Regions from separate parts of the Homo sapiens genome. Here region 2 is linked to region 1. Evidence: fine-mapped expression QTL. A gene starts in region 1. The other region holds a variant in brackets. All regions are shown on one strand. Distances are between the middles of the regions. Region 1 holds the start of MYOM3 (myomesin 3). Region 2 overlaps MYOM3 (myomesin 3).

Region 1 (11,588 bases):
TCTCTTCCCCACCCCTCCCCTTTCCTGGGACACAGTGACAGGTGGTGGTGTTCTTATCTGATGGTAATTAATGTTTAACATCTCCTCGGTGTCACTGGTTTAGACCCAACACCTCCGTGCAGAGGGATGGGTCTACCTGGACAGCCCCCCCCAGCCCATTCACCCCTCCACGGCAGCCAAGTCAGCCGGATGACGGCTCCCCTCTCCCCACCCACTGCAAACAAGTCTACTTCCTGTTGCTTGGGTCACACTTGGCCAAAGGTTAACTGTCTTCACCTTGTTTATTGGTGAAAAACAACCTAACAGGTGGACTATTCTCACCAAGTGAGACCCAGGAGCTACAGAAGTTTTTTATTAAGACCAGGCGCAGTGGCTCACGCCTGTAATCCCAGCACTTTTGGAGGCCAAGGTGGGTGGATCACCTGAGGTTGGGAGTTCCAGACCAGTCTGGCCAACATGAGACCCCCTCTCTACTAAAAGTACAAAATTAGCTGGGCATGGTGGCAGGCGCCTGTAATCCCAGCTGCTTGGGAGGCTGAGGCAGGAGGATCACTTGAACCCGGGTGGCGGGGTTTGCAGTGAGCCAAAATCCAGCCATTGCACTCCAGCCTGGGCAACAGAGCGAGACTCCATCTCAAAAAAGAAGTTTTATTAAAAGCCATAAATATCTCTTCCAACTCACAGTAACACGAAGCTCTTTGCCCTCCTCCGGGTGACAAACATTTCAGAAATGATTCTGGGAGGGTGGAGTCTGAGTGTCTGAAGAGAGGGATGGATGGCTTCGAGTCTGTGACTCACCCCTCCTCAGGTTGGACCTGTCTGCACTGAGGGGCGGGGACCAGACTGCATGACCCCTGAGGTCCCATGCCTCCCAGGCAGCCCAGGCCTGCAGATAGAGCTGGAACCAGCCAGAAGGCAGAGCGTCCGCATACCCTGGAGCTGGCTGGGGACCTCATCGTTCCTGAGAGTCCTGGGTCCGATCCCATTTCCAGGAATCTCCACAGCCCCACCCTGCCCAGCAAGAGAGGTGATTCTCCAAGTTTTCACTTGCCTACAAGGTATGGCACAGTCAAGCCCAGGAATAAATGACTAGTAATATAATAGTAGCAGTAGTCAAAGTCATATGAAAGAGAAGAAGTCAACCGTGTTGCTTGGCCGTTATGTACTTGATCATTCATCCTCCTGGTACCCTTCTCTCCATGATAGGTTGTATTATTGATATTTCGCAAAGGAGGAAAATGTGTCTCAGAGAGATTACTTGCCCTAGTTCATGAAAATACTCTGGGAAGCTTACTAAAAATACAGCTTCCCCAAGCCCACCCCAGACCTGCTAAACTCACAGTTTCTAGGAATCTGGTTGTTTGTTTTTGAGACAGAGCCTCACTTTGTTACCCAGGCTGGATTGCAGTAGCATGATCACAGCTCACTGCAGCCTCCACCTCCCTGGCTCAGGTGATCCTCTCACCTCAGCCTCCCAAGTAGCTGGGACTACAAACACCCACCGCCATGCCTGCTAACTTTTGTATTTTTTGTATTTTTGTCAACAGGTTTCACCCTGTTGACCAGGCTAGCCTCAAACTCCTGGACCCAAGTGATCCTCCACCTTGGCCTCCCAAAGTGCTGGGGGGTATCTGCATTTTTCATAAACTTCTTTGGTGATTCCTCTGAAGCAAGTTGAGGGAACAGTGCCGTTACACCATCACTTTCTCTCTCCATAGCCTCAAATCAGCGCCCTAGAGGGACCCCCATTACACCCGCTGTTGCAACAGAGTTGAGGGTGGGGGTACTGCATGGCTGTGATGCCTGCAAACCTCTGACCTCCCAAGCTCCCGACTCTAGGAACATACAGGGCTTGCCTGAGTTTCCACCCAGAGAATTGGACCAGCAGGACTGGAGCTCCTCCAGATTTCCAGACAGCCAGAGCCTCTGTCCCTCCCAAGTCTGAGTGTCAACCTGGACAGGGAGACTATGGCCTGATGTCACCAATGCTTGTCCCCTGTCGCTGTCCCCACCTGCATTCCAGACCATGGGACAGAAACAATAAGCTGAGGCAGGTATTGCCAGAGAGATGGAGGCAGCCCCCACCTCCCCTGCTGGTGCTGACGCTGATGAGACAACTCTGAGACCCCAGAGCTGCTGCTCAGCTCCTTTGGCTACTTGAGCCCATTTTTCCTTCCCACTCTAAGGAGGAAGGGGGAGTAAGGAAGATATGCTTTGGCCAGTCCGTATGAGAAGAACAGCAGTTGCAATTAACTGGACTCCGAGAGCGACAGGGAGGGACGGGAGACTGAAGCAGGTACAGTGTCGCCACACAGGGGGAGAAAGCCACAGGCTTGGTTGCTGTCGGAGAAACAGCATGGAGGTTCAGAGCAGTCAGTTTGTTCTTAATGGTCATAAGTCCAGGGAAGGGAATAAAAGAGAAAAGAAGGCAAGGGGAGAAAGAAGAAAGATAAGCCAGGTACTATAGTAGGTATTTTACACATTTAACCTTATCTGAGTCTCCCAGCCATTCTGCAAGATAGGCAATTGCTATAGTCTGAATGTTGGAGTCCCCCCAAAATTCATATGTTGAAACTTCATGTAATAGTAGCAAGAGGTGAGCCCTTTGGAAGGCCATGAAGGCTATGCCCTCAATAATGGGATCAAGAGGCCAGCATGGTGGTGATTCAAGCCAGTAATCCCAGCACTTTGGGAGGCCAAGGTGGGAAGATCCCTTGAGGCCAGGAGTTTGAGACCAGCCCGGGCATCACAGTGAGACCCTGTCTCTACAAAAAACGCAAAAATTAGCCTGGTGTGGTGGTGCGTGCCTATAGTCCCAGCTACTCAGGAGGCTGAGGTAGGAGGATCACTTAAGCCCAAGAGGTTGAGGCTGCAGTGAGCCATGACTGCACCACTGCACTCCAGTCTGGGCAACAGAGCAAGATCCTGTCTCGGGGAAAAAAATAAAAATGGAATGGGATTAATGCCCTTATAAAAGAGGTTGAAGAGAGTGCCCTAGCCCCTTCCACCACATGAGGACTCCACAAGAGGCACCATCTATGATGCAGAGAGCAGGTCCTCACCAGACACTGAATCTGCTAGCACGTTGATCTTGAACTTCTTGGTCTCCAGAACCGTAAGAAATAAACTTTTGTTATTTATAAATGACCCTGTCTAATGTATTTTGTTGTAGCAGCTCAAACGAACTAAGACAGTAACCATTCACTGATTCATTTTTCTTTTTTTTTTTTTTTTTTGAGACGGAGTCTCTCTCTGGTCTCCCAGACTGGAGTGCAGTGGCGCCATCTCAGCTCACTGCAAGCTCTGCCTCCCGGGTTCACCCCATTCTCCTAACTCAGCCTCCTGAGTAGCTGGGACTACAGGAGCCCACCACCACGACCTGCTAATTTTTTGTATTTTTAGTAGAGACAGGGTTTCACCTTGTTAGCCAGGATGGTCTCGATTTCCTGACCTCATGATCCACCTGCCTCGGCCTCCCAAAGTGCTCGGATTACAGGCGTGAGCCACTGCGCCCAGCCCACTGATTCATTTGTAAATAAATGTGAATTGAGGGCCAGGTGTATGCCAAGCACTGTTCTCGGGGGTAGGGATATGGTCAGGCAGGCAAGTTCTCTGCTATCTTGGAATGTGTCCTCCACCTACAGAGAAAGAAACTGAGGCCCAGAAAGGAGGCCAAGGTCCCCCTGTTAGTGACTGAGGCACCAGAGGTTGGGATTTAAACCAAGGCTTGTATAACATCAAGTCATCTAATCTCTCTGCTCAGCCGCATGACCTTAGGCTTGGCCATGTTTACAGAGGTTCCAGTGATGACTGAGTGCTTCACTGGGGTGAGGTCAACAAAGGGATACATGGGAATCCCACCCCCAGAAGCATGGGGTAAGAGAAAGCCATCAGCATTCCTAGAGCTTTCATTTAGCAAACGTCTGTCCGGGGCCAGACGCCGTGCTGGAGGTTTCACGGTTCTTGGTTGAACATTTTCTTTTCTTTTCTTTTCTATTCTTTTTTTTTTTCTTTTCTTTTTGAGACAAAGTTTCACTCCTGTCACCCAGGCTGGAGTGCAATGGCGCCATCTCAGCTCACTGCAACGTCCACCTCCTGGGTTCAAGCAATTCTCCTGCCTCAGCCTCCCAAGCAGCTGGGATTACAGGCGCGCCCCCACCACACCCAGCTAATTTTTGTATTTTTAGTAGAGACGGGGTTTCACCATGTTGGCCAGGCTGGTCACGAACTCCTGACCTCAGGTGATCCACCCGCCTCGGCCTCCCAAAGTGATGGGATTACAGGTGTGAGCCACCATGCCCAGCCTGATTGAACATTTTCAATGAGACAGCTAAGTGGAAATTGTTGTCTTCAACTGTACAGATAATCAAACCACACTGGCTGAGTGCCTTCCCCAAGGTCATCCAGCTAATAAGTGGTGGGACTGAATTGAAAGCCTAAGCCGGTTTGACTCCAGGATGCACCCTGTCTCTCCAGTGCACCTTCATTCATCTCCCCAGATTGCCTTGGGAGGACGGGGCTAGAGGACCTGTTTAAATGACTGTCTCCTGCTCAGTTGGAAGCTCAAAGCCCTCTTTGCTGTTCGTACGGATTCACTCACACTCATCCCTCACAGCAAATGTATGAAGATGAGTCTTGGAAAGCCCTTGTTCGATTGGGTCAATAGAAGATGGGAGAGAAATGTTCTCTCCCAAAAGATGCTGTAAGAGAGAGCCACAGAAGAGCTTAGAAAGGGGTTTTCAAATAGGGCAGGGGATTCAGATTTTGCCTGCAAAGTTCACTTGTGCTCTCTCTCTCCTTCTCTCGAGTGAGGAGTCCCTGAGGCACCAGCAAGAGTGACAGGTGTAGTGTGGGTGGCCACCTGAGGTCGCAGGAAGGGGTGAGGGAGGGAAGCTGTGCTCTCTGGCTAGGGGCCGGTACAGCCTTCCCCTCACCGGCTCATCCTCTGAGACTCGACCCAGGTGCACCTTCCTGATCACCTCCTGTCGTAAGTGCCTGACTTCCCCTGTAGGTTAGGGTCTGGCATAGGGTAGGTGCCAATGAATGTGAGGGGGAAAGAATTGAGACTGAGGGAATGGCAGGAGAGGGCAAAGGGTGGGAAGAGGTGTGGTGCCGAACACCTATTAACCTCAGTAGGGAAGGCACCAGGTTTGAGAGGCCAAAGAAAAGATCCATAGCCAGCAAACGGAACATGGGGGTTTCAGGAGGCGGAGGTTGCAGTGAGCTGAGATCATGCCACTGCACTCCAGCCTGGACAACAAAGTGAGACTCTGACTCAAGAAGGAAAGAAAGAAGGAAAGAAGGAAAGAAAGAAAGAAAGAAAGAGAGAGAGAAGGAAGGAAGGAAGGAAGGAGGGGGGGAGGGAAAGAAGGAAAGAAGGAAGGAAGGAAGGAAAGAGAAAGAAGAAAGAAAGAAAGAAAGAAAGAAAGAAAGAAAGAAAGAAAGAAAGAAAGAAAGAAAGAAAGAAAGAAAGAAAGAAAAAGAAAGGGAGAGAAGGAAGGGAAGGAAGGAAAGGAAGGAACGTGGGGGTTTGTTAGGGGCTTGCCTACAGGAGAGAGAGTCCACTGGTGATGAACTGGACAGGAGAACCGCCTTACATACAGAAATGGTCCAGGGGCGGCGGGCTGGACAACATACCAGTGGCGGCCGACTGGGCAGGAAAACCTCAGCCCCTTGCAAACAGCATGCAGTTTATAGAGCATTTTCACTTTACACCATCCCCTAATGACCTCCACCTGGCAATCTTCATTTAACCCAAAACTCAGGGCCTCAATCCCCTGTATGGCCAGCGTTCCACCAGAAGGGACGGGACGGGGGCTCAGATATTCATCGTAGGTAAGAAACGGGTTGGCTACTCCCCAGATTCCTTAGCTCGGAACACATATTCAGGTCTTCCACACAGGGTCATTCTTGGAGCGTGCTTCAGTTATCCCTGTCAGGTGCGTTTACCCTATAAGAAGGCCCTTCAGGGGACACTCTGGCAGCCTGAGCAGTTTGCACAGTGAAGCAGTAGGTGGCTCCCCAGCTCCTCCTGCCTGCACCACACCACACACACATGACTGTGGTCAGGGCGGGGGCCGTGTAGTAACTACCGGAGTGGTGGAGGGACCAGGAGCCACACATTGCTGTTTTAGCCAGTGACAACTTCTGAGCACGAAACACTCACTTTTAGGTCATATTCCTTCCACCGTCTTCATGAAGTCCAGGTGCCCAGTCTCACTGTCTCCGTTTTTCAGAAGGCAGTCAGTTCAGGGAAGCTGAGCGCCTTCCCCAGGGCACCCAGTCAGCCGGGGCAGAATTCAGATCAGAACTCCCGACAGCTGAGAACGCCGCACGGGATCTGCCCTCCATACGACCATGCCTGAGCCGTTCCCTCCTTTCCATTTTAACAGGGGCTTGGGTTGGGCAGAAAGGACCCAGCTGAGAGGAGGAGCAGTGTGGGGGGACGCGGCGGACAGCTCCACCTGTCGCTGCTGCCCAGCAGGCTGGAGACACGGAATGGCCCCTCCCCTTGGCCCCCTGTCCCCGATGCCATAGTTCTCATCCATTGTCATTGTACTGTCTCAGTGCTGCTATATTTAAGACGGTGCAGTCTCCGGGATCGCATTCTTCTCCCGGTGCCCGCTGAGCCGAGGGCAAGAAGAGAACAAGGACCCTCTCGGCCTCAGGAATCTTCTCCCCAGAGACTCCTAAGTGGGCACACTGCTTCTGTGAGTCACCCCCAGAAATCAGGGTGGGGGAGGGATGCCTCCTAAGAGTCAGCCACTGGGGAGTGATATCTGTGGGTGCATGTGTGTGTGTGTGTGCACGTGTGTGTGTTTGTGTGTATGTGTGTTGTGTGTTGTGAAAGGAGCCTGGGAAATTTGTGCTGAGGCAGCACCCAAGTGAAAATGGGAGGGGATTCCAGAAACCCCTGCCCCATCCCACTGTTCTGTGTGGCCCTGGGTCTTCTGAGAGCTGAGCTGTCTGTGATGTGAAAGTTGCAAAAAAAAAAAAAAGAGTGGGGGCTGCCCTGGGAACTGGAGTCTTTCCTGTGATGGAGCAGCGATAAGCGGGAGCCAGGCTAAGCTGGCAAGTTCCACGAACTTAGAGCGGAGCTGGCTGAGCCCGGCTTGGCCAACCCCACAGGCAGGGAAAGAGAGCGAGCCCTCGGATCCCAAATCTTAGAGCTGGAAGGGATTTCATCCAGTGCCTGACAGGAAACCGAGGCCCAGACGGGAAAGGAGTTGCCTCAGCTCATGACTGGCAAGGGCAGGATTCGGCCTCGCGGAAGCTGGTGGAGCCACTGGCTAAGAACACGTCCCAGCCTGTGCCACCCGCCGCCCGCAGGATGTGTCTCTGCTCCCAGCCACCATCCGCCCCCATCGCAGCTCCTGGAGGGGTCTTGGCTCAACTGCTGTGCATTCCTCTTTCCCTCCTGAAGAAGGGGAGAGGCCTCCTCGGCAGATGGAGGCTTGGGAGGAAAGCAGAGGGGAATAGGGAAGGCCACGCAGTGGGACCTCTGGCCCAGATTTTTGCACCCCAAGAGAGGGAAGCGGGGGCAGTTTCCCCTCCACGCAGGCACACACAGTGTTCCGGGAAGAGGCACCCTGGTCCTTTGGGAAAGGGCAGTGAGGCCGCAAACTTGTCCCTGCTTAATACCACGCATCAGTCAGTGCTTTAAAAAGAATTGGTAGCTCATCCGCTAAAGCCAGGGGTCTGGTTGCTGGAGGCCCCGAGGTCAGGGACGAGCGCCAGGCCCCTGCCTGCTGTGCTAATCGGGAACAGAGCATCCAGGGGAAGGGAGCCAGTGGCTGGTGCCAGGGAATGTTAACTCTCAGCCACTGGAGCCAGGGCCATCGTGTCCCAGGAAAGCTGGGGCAGAGTGGGGGGTCCTTGCTCCACCTAGGGTGGTACCCAGCAGCTCTCCTCCTGGGCCATGAGGAAGAAAGAGCAGAATGAGCAGGGCTAGCCACTTCTTTGGGTGCAAAGAGAACTTCTTCCATCGGGAGGGAGTGATACGAAGCCAAAGAGGGTGACTGTCCCATTATGTCATTTGAGATGATTAGCAGGAGCCCAGGGAGCTTTAGGGGGCAGCCCTTGGTCCCAGCTAACCCTGCAGCCATCCATTCTCTTTTTCCTGATGCCCACAACTGCAGACACCCAAAAGGAGCAAACTTCTAGGAAGTAGAAGGGGTAAAAGCCCACTAAGACTGACCCTCCACAGCCCGAGCCCCAGACACCTCCACCACATGCCCCTTCCAGGCCAACGGCTCTCCAATAAAGCCAGTGGGCTCACCTTCCATGCCATGGACTTAGAGAAATGGTCACCTAGGTGCTGTGTTCACATCCAGGCAGAAGACAGCCTACACATGCACGCACACACACACATACACACACATGCACGCCCACACACACACACGCTGCCACCTCCAGCAGGACCCTCTAGAGAGGCAGGGGCCAGACAGAGCTGACCCCACAGAAGCTGACAGGAGCAGGCCAAGGCAGGCGGTCATCCCTCTTCTGTTTCCATCCCCACGCCTGGGCAGGAACCCTCCCATGCCAGAAGCCTGCAGACCAGGATTCCCACCTGGAGGAGGTGTGAAAGCCATTCCAGGGATTTTAGCTTTAGCATCAGGGGGGCCCTCAGAGACCCAGCAGTGACTGAAGCCCGGATATGAGAAAACTCAGTGCAAAAACCCACAGCCAGCGGGCACACGGGCCTCCCACACCCCTCGTTTGCCTCTCCATATCCATGGATCCGCTTCCTGAGCCTCCCCTGGGTCAATCTGATCCGGCCCCACTGGGCGCCATCACGGGCCTAGACTTGAGCCTTGGGAATGCAAAGGAGATGTGTACATTGCAATCCCCTTATAAGGAGAAAGGCCCTGTGGCCCACCGTGTCCCCAGCCTCTGCCACGGCCTGGCCTTGAATGGACATATGACATAGAGATCAGAAGGGCTAGGGGTTGGGCTAGGGATTGGCTGCCAGTCATGGCCCCACCATCATGCTGGGTGACCTTGAGCAAGTACTGCCCCTGTTCATCAGTAAAATGGGATAATAATGGTGCTGTCCTCATTTGGGTTATTGCAGGGACTGGGGATAATGCATTTGAAAACTAACATGGGCATGGAACATAGTAAGTTCTCACTATTGTTACTTTTAATTCACTTACAGTCTTGTTGAACAGTCAAGATGCACAGATACAAAATAATTACATAGAGAAAGCATTGTCTGAATCAATGCTAAATTGTGGAGTGCTAGAAAATAAGTACAAAAGAAATGAGAAGAGGGAAAATTCTAGGTGGCCTGTAGTCTTTCTGCAAGGCTTCTTAGAAAAATAATGCTAATGCCTAATACTTATGTTGTACTTACTAAGCCCCAAGCACTCATCTAACCTTCACAACTACCCTGGGAGGTTAGTAGACCCATTTTACAGATGAGGAAACAAAGTCATGAGTCTTTCCCAAGGTTACACACTTGAAAGCTGGGATAAGGAGCTGGGATCACACCCTGTGGGCTGGACTCAGAGTCTCTCTGCTAATTAGCATGCCCTCAGTTGGGGTTTGAAGCATGACTAGAGCCAAGCGGGCCAGGAGGAGGGGAAGGGTGTGCCGGGAGAGGAAACCAGCGTGGGCAAAGGCCCAGAGGTAGGACTGAACATGGCCGGTGCAGGAAGAATGGGGACGCCTGCCCGTCCTGAGTCATAGACACAGCCGTGGACATCACAGTTTCAATTACTCATTGTCTGGGGAGCTGAGGCCCATAGAAGCGAAAACCTTGCCACAGATCATACAGTGAGACAAGGGCTGGGCTGCAGCTGGAAGCAGCTAGAAGCCAGGGCCCTGCTCCCTAACGTGGGGGCTCTGCTCACTCAGCTGGGGAGCACATGGGGTGGAGGAGAAGCCTGGCTCAGAGCCCAAGGCCTGCCTCTGTCACCTTGGGCAGGTCCCTCTCCCTCTCAGACCTCAGTTTCCCTGTCTGCCGACTGCAGAGAGGACACCCCCACCCCCCATCCTGCCAGCCTCCTAGAGATGTTGGGAAGACTGCATGGGAGGGGATAGGCGGGCACCTGGTGGAATGACCGTGGACCTTGGCCTTCACAGGTTGTTGCTCTCGTAACCATGACTCTGCCGCACAGCTTGGGAGGTGCGGGGGACCCCCGGCCCCCCCAGGCCATGGAGGTTCACAGGCTGGAGCACCGGCAGGAGGAGGAGCAGAAGGAGGAGCGGCAGCACAGCCTGCGCATGGGCTCCTCTGTGCGGAGGCGGACCTTCCGCAGCAGGTGGGAGCCACAGGGTCCCCGCCCAGCCACTGCCCTGTTCCCAGGGCCCCCAGTCTGAGGAGGGAGGCCCAGCCTAGCCCTCTGGAGGCTCCAACCTGATGGGGGGAGGGACATCCCTGCTTTCTGAACCCCCTGTCTGAGGGGGGAGACACAATTGGCTCTCTGGAGACCCCCATGTGATGGAAGAGGCACAGCCCTGTCCTCTGGAAACCCTGTTTGAGGAGGGAAGCACATTCAGGGTCGGGGGGATGCAGCCTTGCTTTCTGAGACCCCAGTATGAGGAGGGAGGCACAGCCCTGCCTGCTGGTGCCCTGAGGCTGAGGTGGGCAGATGCAGCCCTAATCTCAGGGAGCCCCCAGCCAATCCTGCAAGAGCCATTTACTCCCCTCCTTCTGGGAGCAGCGAAGAAGAGCATGAGTTCAGCGCCGCGGACTACGCCCTGGCAGCAGCCCTGGCTCTGACGGCCTCCTCCGAGCTGTCTTGGTGAGTCAGAGAAGCTTCCCAGGGAGCCGTGGCTGAGGAGGGGCCATCCTGTCCAGTCCCCGGCCTCCCTGCTGGCCTTTCACCCCGAGTGTAAAGAACCTGCCCAAAATCCCACATCTAGAATAAGGGTCTAGACAGGAGTTTAAGCCCAGGGCTACCTGCCCTCAAAGCCCACATGCCACCCTCTGGAAGGGTGCACGTGTCATAGCGGGGGACTGTTCCCAAGGAAGAGGGTAGGGGCCTACTTCACCAACAGACTTCTGGGCTTCACGTGGTGGGGGAGGGGGCTAAGAATGGGACAGAAGGAGCAAGTAAACCAGGCCCCAGTTTCCCACAAGGCCAGAGACTGAGGAGGCCTCTGAGTGTGCCGGCGTGGAGAGGCAGCGTTCGGCTTGGGGCAGGGCCCTGGGCTAGGAGGCTTGGGTGGTGGTCCTGGCTGACCTGAAGCAAGTTGCTAAGCCTCAGTCCCTGCCCTATAAAATAGGGACACTAAGGCCTGGCCACTTGGCTGTCGTGAAAACAAGATGAACAAAGGTTTGTGAAAGAGCCTTGAAAACAATGAAAACAGTCAACTATTAAGGACTGACTGCAAGCAGGGCCCTTCCAGGCTGTTTTGGAGGCAAGGGAAGATGCAAAATCATGCATGTCCTCCAAAAGTTTAAAGCATCCTGGCACTGCTGGGCACAGGGAATGGAACTGGCCAGGATGCCCCAGGCATCCCCCATCCCTGCCTGAGCCCCGATGGCCTCTGTCACGGCAGGGAAGCCCAGCTGAGACGCCAGACCTCTGCCGTGGAGCTGGAGGAGCGAGGGCAGAAGCGGGTGGGCTTCGGCAATGACT
Region 2 (11,588 bases), 24 kb after region 1:
GTCTTTGCTCGTGAGAAGGAACCCTTCTCCCTGTCATGCTTGTTTTCGGAAGATGTGTTAGATGCTGAGAGCATCCAGTGGTTCCGAGATGGTAAGGACCCCCAGTCCTGGCCCCCAGCCTCCAGAGCTGGCCCCTCCAAAGCTCAACTCAGAGCCAGAGAGGACCCCTAGCGGACAGAGACTCTCCCCAACCAGTACCAACTGTGCTAAAGTGCTGAAGAGGCAGAGGAGAGCGGGAGTGCAGCCAGGTGTGGTCAGATCATGCCACCCCATAAATGGCCACCAAGCATCTGTGGGGTGCCAGGCCCTGGGTTAGGGCTGGGGTAAATGGTAGGGGCAGATGTGCATGAGCCCAGGGGGCTGTGTCCACCTGGGAGGAGGGAGGAAGCCATCAGCACAATTGTAGCCGCTGGCACTGACCAGGCACCTGCTCAGCCATTTGCATGCATCATTACCTCCCTAAGAGTGAGGGAGGGAGGCCAGGCGTGGTGGCTCACACCTGTAATCCTAGCACTCTGGGAGGCTGAGGTGGGTGGATCACCTGAGGTCAAGAGTTCAGGTCTAGCCAACATGGCAAAACCCCATCTTTACTAAAAATACCAAAAATTAGCCAGGCATGTTGGTGGGTGCCTGTAATCTAGCTACTCGGGAGGCTGAGGCAGGAGAATCGCTTGAACCCAGGAGGCAGAGGTCGCAGTGAGCCGAGATGGCACCATTGCACTCCAGCCTGGGGGACAAGAGCAAGACTCCATCTCAAAAAAAAAAAAAAAAAAAAGTGAGTGAGGGCACTCAAAGCAATGGGAACAGAGCCCCAAGATCGGGAGGCAGGAGGGCACCACAAGTGCTCAGGGCAGGCTGCAACAGTTGCATCGGACTTTGCAGAGTCAGGGTGGTGGTGCAGATACAGTTGCTGACCCGTGGGCTGGGAGGCCTCTGGGGATGTCTCAGGCGAGGCCTTGAGAAGCCTGGTCAGAGCCAAGGCAGGAAGACGTGGCCCAGTGAGGGAGGAGGACGACGGCTGGACCTCCTACCCAATCCATGACTAGGCCTATAGCCTAAGGACCCAGAGTACAGTGCCCCTCTGGCACCCCCAGCTCTGAGCCCAGGGAGGCTGCACCTGCTGGGAGCAGGGAGTATGGGAGCCATCAGGATCCCTGACAGCTGCAATAACAAGGCTGAGACGTCTTCCCAAACGTGTAGATCTTCCAGAATGGAGGTGCTGAATGGAGGGCGGATCCTTCACATGGGGCAAAGAGAAGAGCTGGCCCCACAGTGTGGCCTCAAGGCAGGGCCCGCCCCTGAGCCCTGGACTCCACTTCTGAGTCCCCATCCACCTCCTAAGCTCCCATCCCGAGAGCCCTCACTCCCTTACCTGACCCCTGACCCCACGACACGTCCTCCACCCGCCTCACCGAGGCCCCAGCTCTCTCAGTGAGACCCAGGCCCTTTACTGAGCTCCCACCTCCCCCAAACGGGCCCTCCTTCTTTGAGTCCCCTGACCCCATACAGGGACCCATCTCTCTTGCTCCTACTCCCTCAGAGAACCTACAACTCCTCACCTTGTCACTGGCTATGTCCCTAAACCCTCACTCCCTCATTGAGCCCCAGCCCCGCACTGGCCCTTCCCTACTCCCCAAGCCCTCTGCAAAGGAGAGTTCTCCACTGCCTGCCTTGGCAAAGCCCTGGAGGCCACCACCCCCACCCAAGGCCTGAGCTGAGCCTCACCAGCCTCTCTCTCTGCCCAGCCAGGGTCTCCAGACCCCCCAGTTTCTGTGGTTCCCAGGTGAGACCAGGACCCCCCACAAACTCAATGGCCCCCCACTTCCCCTCCACAGGGAGCCTACTGAGGTCCTCGAGACGTCGGAAGATCCTCTACACAGACCGCCAGGCATCCCTGAAGGTGTCCTGCACCTACAAGGAGGACGAGGGGCTCTACATGGTCCGGGTGCCCTCGCCCTTCGGACCCCGGGAACAGAGCACCTACGTGCTTGTGAGAGGTGAGGGCATGGGTGGGCGCAGGGTAGCAGCAGGAGCCCAGAGACCAGGGCTCTGCCCCTTGTTTGCTGTGGAACCTTAGGCAAGGACCCTGCTCTCTTGGGGCCTCAATTTCTCTACCATAAAATCAGGGCTTTGGGTTGGGGTCTCCAAGACTCCCCGTGGCATCCTATGACCCTCCAAAGGGACATGGCCCGAGAGTTAGCCTGGCTGGAGCCAGGGAGGCTGGGAGCTGAGTGTGGGGCTGGAGTGATTCTGGCCACTGCTTAGGGCCTGGGTTCACATCCTGGCTTTGTCACTTCACCAGCTGGGTGACTTTGGGCAGGTCACTCACTCACCTCCAGGAGACTCAGTTTCCCCATCCAAAGAGGGGAAGGCTGCTCTGGGGCTGGAATTAATTATTCCACTTGTTCAGGTACTTGGTGTAAAATGGGCCCCCAAGAAATGGTACTGTCATCCTTCCCTCAGATACTGCTATGGGGGTAGTGGGACTAATATTCAGGCCCCAGTCCTCAAGATCAAAACTGAGCCCCTGGAGGATGGATGAGAAGAGGATGCTGGGCGGGAGTGGGAAGGGCCTGTCACCAAATGGCCACTGACTAGAAGGGCCTCCCTCTCACCCCCGGGTTTCAGATGCCGAGGCCGAGAACCCCGGGGCCCCAGGCTCCCCACTGAACGTCCGATGCCTGGATGTGAACAGAGACTGCCTCATCCTGACTTGGGCCCCGCCCAGTGACACCCGGGGCAACCCCATCACTGCCTACACCATTGAGCGGTGAGTCGACCTCGTGAGTGGCAGAGGCCCTAGGGGTAGAATTCTGTCTGGTGGTGGGAGCCACAGCAAAGAGGAGGCCCCATGTCTGACCTCAGAGAACCCTCACACCCCCGCTCCTCAGAAAAGGACAGGAGACAGGCTGTGCTGTGTCATTTAGGGGCAATGGAGGGGCATCCACACCTCCAAGTCTTTGTCATGCTGATAACTGGAATTCTATGCTGGAGTCGGCCACTGCCCTGTGGACCCTCTAGAGCTGACCCAGAGGGGCAAAACGGGGAGTGCTTGAACCCTGAGCACAGTGAATTCGTGGGCTAGTTTCCTTCCTAATGACAGAGAGAGATGGAATAGCACTGACCCCAAGGGAGGAGGCAAACAGGTAGAGAGGCCAGAACCTCCGGCCTTTTTCCAGTGTGGCCGGCTCTGAAGGCCCAGCTTGAGAAAATAGCTAATGCTGCCACGGACAGGCTCATGACCGTGCTAAGGGCATGCCTCATCTCTTTCCATCCTTCCAATGACCCGTCTCTAAAGGGGAGGGGGACTATCTAATGCCCTCTTCTATAGATGGGGAAACCAAAGTATGTGGGGAGATGACTTTGCTCAAAGACACATTTGTCATTAGTGGTGGAGACAAGACTTGGACCCACATGTGACGACTACCTCAACCAGCTGGTAACAATAAGGGTAACGTGCACTGTCGTACTGCCTGGAACAATGGTACCAAGAGGGTACAGAGAGCCCAGGCTTGGAGGGTCAACCTGGAATGCATGCCAACTTAGGGAGGGGACAAGCTCAGGTAAATCCTAACTGTGTGACCTTGGGCAGGTCTTGTCACTCTCTGAGCCACAGATCCTCCATGTGTGCAGTGAAGGTGACCACACGTGCCCCCTAGGACTGCCAGGGAGATAAAACGAGGGCTGGGTGTGGAGGGCACAGCACAGTCACAGGCTCACGATGATGCCCCATGAAAGGCACTGCTGCTGGTCAGTGTCAGGGATGGTGAAAAGGTCTCCCGGGGGCCCGAGGTTGGAGCCAGGCTCTTCCATTGGAGAGAAGAACTTTAATTGGCAGAGATGAGCTGGGCAGGCTCCCCCAGTCAGAGAAAGGCCCTTGTAGAGGCTCACATTGGGAAGGTGTGCATTGTGGGCAGGGGCTGAAAGGGGGGGCCTGTCTCCAACAGGTGCCAGGGCGAGTCTGGGGAATGGATCGCCTGCCATGAGGCCCCCGGAGGGACTTGTCGGTGCCCAATCCAAGGCCTCGTCGAAGGTCAGAGCTATCGGTTCCGGGTGAGAGCCATCAGCAGGGTAGGCAGCAGCGTCCCCTCCAAGGCCTCAGAGTTGGTTGTCATGGGTGACCATGATGCAGCCCGGAGGAAGACAGGTGGGTACAGAGGTCCTAAGCGACTTTCTAGAACATCAGTCAGGGAACCCTCAGGACTGTCTCACACAGGAGACAATCCAGCCCTCAGGAGCCCCGAGTCTGGTGGAGGAAGCACAGCCCAGCCCTCAGTAAACACTAGTCTGATGAAGGAGACAAAGGCCAGCCCTCGAGAACTTCCAGTCTGATGGAGGAGACACAATCCGGTCCTTAGGAACCCCTAGCCTGAGAAGGAAGATACAGCTAGTCTAATGGGAGAAACCAAACCTGTCCATGGGAGAGACCAGTCTGAGGGAGCACCCTACCCCAGCACCTGTCAGATGTCCTTAAGCTCGAGTGCGGGGACACGGCCTCCTCTCAGCCCTCGGGAGCCACGCTGACTTGGGTGTGCTAGAAGCTCCACCGTGGCAGGGTGCCCAGCGCCAGGCACCTCCCTCCTCCTCTCTGTCTCCACTTGTCCCAAGAGGAAGAGCATGTGCCAGGGCCTGAGAGCAGCAGGGCTCCACTTGGGACTCCTGAGAAAGCTGAGGCCAGAGGGAGGGCACCTGTCTGAGGTTGCACAGCGAGGGCTGCAAGGCCAGGACTGGGACGGGGCAGGACGCAGACCCTGGTGTGGGGTAGCTCCTGGCCTAACTCCTCCTGTGCCACCCCCCACCCTCCC[A/G]TGCTCCCTTCTCATCCTAGAGATCCCCTTTGATCTGGGAAACAAGATCACCATCAGCACAGACGCTTTTGAAGGTACGCGGGATCCTCCCACACACTGGGCCTCCTGTATAGTTCTCAAAACTCTGGGACATGAGCTGGCAAAGAGGCAGAAGCTGTCCCAGTGCAGGGTGTGGGGGATGAGGGCAGGTGGGGCCTAGTTGGAGGCAGTCAGAGTGCTGGGGTCACTGTGGCCCATCTGGCTGTGGCCCTCCTGGAGGAGGGAACACATTGGGAAAAGTCCTGGCCAGAGCAGTGGGAGACCTGGGTTCTAGCCCCGGCTCTGCCCAGCATTGCTGAGTGACCTGGAGCCAACTACTGCCCCTCTCTGGGGGATGGGTAGGGGTGTAGTTCCCTCTTCCATGGAATGAGGCACTGAGATTAGGGGGTCTCTGAGGGTCCAACCATCTCGGTCCCGGGTGACTCTGATTTCAGATACTGTGACCATCCCCTCACCGCCAACCAATGTCCATGCCAGCGAGATCCGAGAGGCCTATGTGGTTCTGGCCTGGGAGGAGCCCAGCCCCCGGGACAGAGCACCACTGACGTACTCCCTGGAGAAGGTAGGGAACCCCGAGGCCCCAGCCCCAGGCCAGCCTGAGAAACAGATGTGCTGTGGGACCCTGGGCAGTGTCCCCTGGGGAGGCCGTCAGAGAATGAAAGAGAATCCCCTGGCCAGAAGGGCCCAGGCATGGCCCTACACAGAGGCAAGGGGATGGATTGAATAGCCTTTTGCAGCTACCTCTAGCCCTGGAAGCCAGTCACTGCTGGTCGTTCCTGAGGCTGTTCGTGGAAATACACAAAATACAAGACACAGACAACAATGACAATACGATCCACCACTTCCTGGGTACCTCCCTGCCCCCAAGCCAGATGGCATCAGACCACACATTGGGGCCAAGCACTTCTTGGTGGGACTATGTTGGGAGGGAAACAAGGCTGGTACCCTCCAGCCAGGGACAGGCACCAGCAGCACTTGCAGAGCCTATGGTGTGATTAGCACTAGGAGGTGGCTCTCACTGGGGAGTGGGGGCAGGGGAGACCCCGGCGGGGATGAGGCAGGTCTTGTGGAGTGAACTTCACAGTGGAGGGGGGGCAGTATGGCAGAGTAGAAGACAGCATGGTGTCAAAATCTATTCAAATCCTTCCTTGTGCTGTGTGATCCTGAGTGAGTGTCCTAAACTCTCTGAGCCTCAGTTTCCTCCAGCATAGAATAGAGAACCTGCCCTGTGAAGATGAAATAAAACACAGCCCACAGCCAAAGCCAGCAACCCCTGGGATCTGTCAGTGCTTCCCAAGGAGGTGTTCTTGACTATCTCCCTGAAGTCAGAGACTAAGTTTATCTTCTCATTACTTTCTGTGCCCAGCACAATGCCTGGCACAAACTAGGTGGACAGAAAATGTTTAGGGAATAAATGAATTTAAAATTTCCAGGGAGGAATCTCTGGCTCTGATTATCCAAACAGGCCTCTCTTTTCACACTCATGGGTAATCCTTTTTCTCCGACATAGGAAAGCTGTAGATAATTGAGGATTTGTTTCACAAGGTGGTAGTGTATCATGGTGAAGATGTTGGCGTCAGACTGCTTGGGTTCAAATTCTATCTCTGCTACTTACCAGCTGCGTGACCTTGGGCAAGTTACTTAGTTTCTCTGTGCCTCTGTTTCTTCTTCCATAAAATGATAATAATCATACACAGCTTGTAGGGTTAATGTGAGGATCAAATTAATTAGCGCACATAAAGACTTAGAATGGAGCCTGGCACACAGTAGGAGCTCAGCAGTGTTCATGGTTTCTTATGGCAATTTCTTGTCCTACCTGGTCTAGGCCACTGACAGCCAGATGGGCTTGTGGGGGGAAAACCACAGAGCGTGGAATCAGTGGGTCCCCTTGTGCTTCTAGGTCTTAACTCTCTTGCCCAGACTCAGCAGAAAGGGTCTCTGGGTACCTCACTCATCTGTCTCACCCTGGGCTCTCCACCCTCCATCTGCCCAGAGACTCGGGGTTTCTGGCTGCCTTCTGGGTCCCTGATGCTGTGGAGAGTAAACAGGTTCGCAGCCAACCACACCTGAGTGAAGTTTAATACTATATCCACCAGTTATTAGATGCAGGACTTTTGGCCAAGTTACCGAAACTCTCTGAACCTGACTTTCCTCATCGGCAGAGAAATTAACACCTTCCTGCAGGGTTATTGTGAGAATTCATTCATTTGTTCATTCATTTGTCCCAGAAACATAGATGGAGCACCTGCTATGTGCCAGTCCTGTTCTTGGCCCTAGGGACACGGCAGTCAGGGGAGGGGGTGCCAATGATAAATGGAGTAAATCAGTAGAATATTAAGCACAGTAGTGAGTGGTAGGCGCTAAGGAGAAAGACATTGAGCAGGGAGGGGAACTTGAAGTGTGGGGAGAGGAGCTGCTGACATTTTTAGATGGAGTGGCTGGGATGGCCTCCCCACTGCCCAGGAAGGTGGATTTTTATTAAAGGCCTACAGGAAGCCAAGAGATTTCTCGGAGAAGAACATTCCAGGCTGAGGGACCAGCAAGTGCAAAGGCCCAGAGGTGGGACTTGGACCCTCAGGAAACAGCAGAGAGGCACAGAGACTAAGGGCAGAGGGAACGGTGGCCAGACAGGCCGAGGGGTCAGGCGATGGGGAAGCTTTTGCTCTGAGGGAGATGCGGGACGTGGGAGGGTTCTGGGCAGACAGGGACCTGGTCTGACACGTGCTATAAAAGGATCCCCCTGATGGCCATTTGAGACAAGACGGAAGGGGGTTATAGGTAGAAATGGAGGGGAGACCAGTCAAGAGGCCATTGAGATCGTTCAGGTGCGGGGTGCTGGCAGCCTGCATCAAGGTTATGGTGGGGAGCATGAGGACAATAAGGCATGGCTGGTTTCTGGGTAAATTTTGAAGGGTGAGCCAACTGGGTTCATTCATGGAGCACATTTAGGGCATGAGACAAAGAGAGGAAGGGCCAAGGGTGGCTCCAGGGGTTTCACCCGAGGGACTGGAAGGATGGGGGCCACCAGTGCAATGCAGGTGTGGGAAGCTCTGGAGCCGCGTTGTGGACAGGCTGGACGTGAGGTCTCGGTAGGAATCCGGGTGGAGAGGTGAGGAGGCAGATGGGGCAGAGCCCCATGCTCAGGGGCAGCCTGGGCTGAGTATAGAGGATCATGAGAGCACACGGGCTGGGGACAGAGATCATGGGAGGTGACCAGCACAGAGCCGGTCTGGGCGACCAGTTAGCCAATGTGAGTCCCTCTGTTTCTTCAGTCAGTCATAGGTAGTGGCACCTGGGAGGCCATCAGCTCGGAAAGCCCTGTGAGATCCCCGAGATTCGCCGTTCTGGACCTGGAGAAAAAGAAGTCGTATGTCTTCAGAGTGCGAGCAATGAACCAGTATGGCCTGAGCGATCCCTCGGAGCCCAGCGAACCCATCGCCTTGCGGGGCCCGCCAGGTACCCTCCTGATGCCGGGGGTCGGGGAGGAGGCAGGCCAGGCCAGGCTCAGGACCTGAAGCTGCAGGGACAAAGCCCTGCCCACTTCCCTGTCCCCGCTCCCTTCTACCCATCATGAAGCTGAAAAGCAATTTGATCTCAGGCCTGGGGAGTTTTAAGACATCAGAAATCACATTTCTCTGGGCAGAAGGCTCATGGAGGGAGAGAGCCTTCTGCCTTTTTCCAGATCAGCAATGCATGGGTTAGAGTGCACAGCTGGGCCCTGCACAGCAGCTGTGCAAGCAACTGGTCCCTCCGTTCCACAGGTCTCTGGCCTGCCCCTAGATCCTGCAGCTCACTCCCAAGCAGCCCCCTGCTCCTTGTCTGGTGGGGGTTGAGCTGTCCCACCTGAGCCCTGGCTTACCAGGCAGGACACCACTCACCTGCAGCATAACGGGGGACCTGGGAGAGTCATTTCCAAGCTGCACACCTTGCTGTCCTCAACTGGCAAACCCATTGTTCTAAAGGGCCCCATCACTGCTCCCACCTCTGGCTCCTTCCTGAGTCTCCCAACTGCAACTGCATCCTGACCCCAGCTTCCCAGGGCTCCCACCTCTGAGGCCTCTGGATTCTGAGGTTCTTTACCCTCTCATCAGATTCCCCGTAGCTGCCATCACAATCAGCCCTTTAAGGAACCTTGCTACAGTACCACCTATGCAAGAAAAGCCTGGTTTGCTGAAGGTCCCATTTGGGGAAGATTTCAAAGTTCTAGATTTGTTCTGCTTCAATAATTTAGAGGGGAAAAAATACACACGCGCACACACACACACACATACACACACGGCACATATGAACAAGTTGGTGAGCAAGTGGTGCTTTTCTTTACTTCTGGTTAACATTTGGATTTGATTTGGGGCCTGGCCAGTGAGCAATTAGTCATCAGATGTGGGCAGTCTCTGGACCATAAACCACACTTAAATTGTACCAGGCAAGGCTCTGGTATAATTCAGAAAGGAAGGGAGGGCAGGGCTAGAGGTGAAGCCTTCAAACAGGTGAGGGATGAAGACCTGGGATAGGCAGGACCCTTAGGAATAAGAAGAGAGGAGAAAAAGTGGAGCAGGTCAAGGAACAGAAGCTTGGATGAGTCCAACGTTTGGGGGCCAAAAGAAAATAGAGAACAACCAAAGGATGTGTAAGGAGTTTAGAAATAAAAAGAGAACTAGGAAGATCATGCACCTGCCATCCATCAGTCCATCCATGCATCTGCCCATCAGTCCATCTATCCATCTATTCATCCATCTATCCATCCATCTATCCATTTATTCATCCATGTATCCACCTGTCCATCCATCCATCCATCCATCCATCCATCCATCCATCCATCTATCCATCCATCCATGCATCCATTTATTCATCCATGAATCCACCTGTCCATCCATCCATCCATTCATCCATCCATCTATCCATCCATCCATCCATCCATTTATTCATCCATGTATCCACCTGTCCATGCATCCATCTGTCCATCCATCCATCCATCCATCCATCCATCCATTCATCCAACCAACCATCCATCCATCCATTCATTCAACCAACCATCCATCCATCCATTTAACAAGTTACAGCAGCCCCTATCTCAAAAAGCTTAGTTTCAGGGAGCCATGAAAATCAGTAGAGAAATTTCAAGGAAAGAAAACTGAGATTAAAGATAAGGACTGAGGAAACCTATCAGATTTGGTGACTTTTGAGTGAGAGAGAGTGTGTGTGTGTAAGGATGAATGAGTGAGTATGCTTTTGTGCTTTAGTGAGGAAGCAGAGATGCTCAGAGGTAAGGGGAGAGAGGACTTTTAGGATACACTTCTGGGCCTAGGGAAGAGGTCCCAAAGCCCCCAGCAGGTCAGGAATTCATGCACCTTGATTGCTGTGGGAGCTCCTTCTGGCCTCTCCCCATGCTCCTCCCCTTCCCCAGCCTGTCAGACCCATGTAACTCAGCCTTCTCATTCAGCCCATGTTTCTATTTTTTAGCTACCCTCCCTCCTCCAGCTCAAGTTCAAGCTTTCAGAGACACACAGACCTCTGTCTCCCTGACATGGGATCCTGTGAAAGACCCAGAGCTCCTGGGTTATTACATCTACTCCCGGAAGGTGGGGACATCTGAGTGGCAAACAGTTAACAACAAACCCATCCAAGGCACCAGGTACGTCTGCCCACCCGTATCAGTCTGTTCTCACACTGCTATAAAGACATACCTGAGACTGGGTAATTTCTTTTATAAAGAAAAGAGGTTTAATCAGCTCACAGTTCTGCGACCTATACAGGCTTCTTTTTCTGGGGAGGCCTCAGGAAACTTATGATTATGGCGGAAGGCGAGGGGGAAGGAAGCATGTCTTACATGGCGGGAGCAGGAGAGGGAGAAAGAGCAAAGCAGGAAGTGCTACACACTTCCAAACAAGCAGATCTCATGAGAACTTGCTCCCTATCTTGACAACAGCAAAGCGGACATCCGCCCCCATGATCCAATCTCCTCCCACGAGGTCCCTCCCCCAACACTGGGGATTACAATTCAACATGAGATTTGAGTGGGAGTACAGAGCCAAACCAGATCACCCCTCTTCCTGCACCAGGCATCCTTGAAAGGGGGCCATAATGATAATGAAGCCCAGCATTTCACAATATTTACCCTGCGCCAGGTACTGTTCTGGCATTTTTCATATGTGAGGTCATCTAGTTCTACCTGCAAGCCTAAATGTGTAGGACTATTATTTTTATTATTTTACAGATGAAGAAACTGAGGCATGGAGAGGTTACATAACTTGCCAAAGCCCCTTGTAGCTTAGTAAATGGCAGGACTGGGACTTGAACCCAGATGGTCTTTTTCAACAAACTTTGTTGAGAATGTGCTATTTGCAGGACTCCATGGATAGAGATGACCATGCCTTGGTCTCATCCCTCCAGGAGCTTAAACCCAGAGAGAGGTGGGGAGGGCAGAGCAGTGGAGAGCTTTGGAGCCAGGGAGGCCTGAGTTCAGGCTCCATACCACCCCTCACCCTTTCTGTATCAGTCAGGGTTCTCTAGAGGGACAGACTAATAGGATAGATGTATATAGGAAAGGGAGTTTATTAAGGACTATTGACTCACACAATCACAAAGTAAAGTCGTACAACCGGCTGTTTGCAAGCTGAGGAGCGAGGAAGCCAGTCCGAGTCCCAAAACCTCAAAAGTAGGGAAGCCAACAGTGCAGCCTTCAGTTTGTGGCCGAAGGCCTGAGAGCTCCTGGCAAACCACTGGTGTAAGTCCCAGTCCAAAAGC

The links.
Region 2: its variant is fine-mapped to the expression of MYOM3 in unexposed skin (GTEx, PIP above 0.99). The same link has a PIP of 0.9 or more in sun-exposed skin.

Annotation. Positions count from the first base shown.
Region 1 is chr1:24,107,153-24,118,740 of GRCh38, reverse strand. MYOM3 (myomesin 3) reads left to right here and starts at 6,606. Exons shown (of 37, transcript NM_152372.4): 1 at 6,606-6,710; 2 at 10,087-10,265; 3 at 10,668-10,748; 4 at 11,509-11,588. The coding sequence starts at 10,105. RefSeq lists enhancers at 5,896-6,404, 11,093-11,588.
Region 2 is chr1:24,083,356-24,094,943 of GRCh38, reverse strand. MYOM3 (myomesin 3) reads left to right here. Exons shown (of 37, transcript NM_152372.4): 9 at 1-91; 10 at 1,836-1,997; 11 at 2,629-2,770; 12 at 3,948-4,147; 13 at 4,826-4,879; 14 at 5,279-5,406; 15 at 8,117-8,300; 16 at 10,305-10,476. Among named protein-coding and RNA genes, the nearest start is that of MYOM3-AS1, 22 kb to the right of the region's middle. RefSeq lists an enhancer at 1,302-1,965. The variant A/G (reference allele first, on the strand shown) is at 4,806.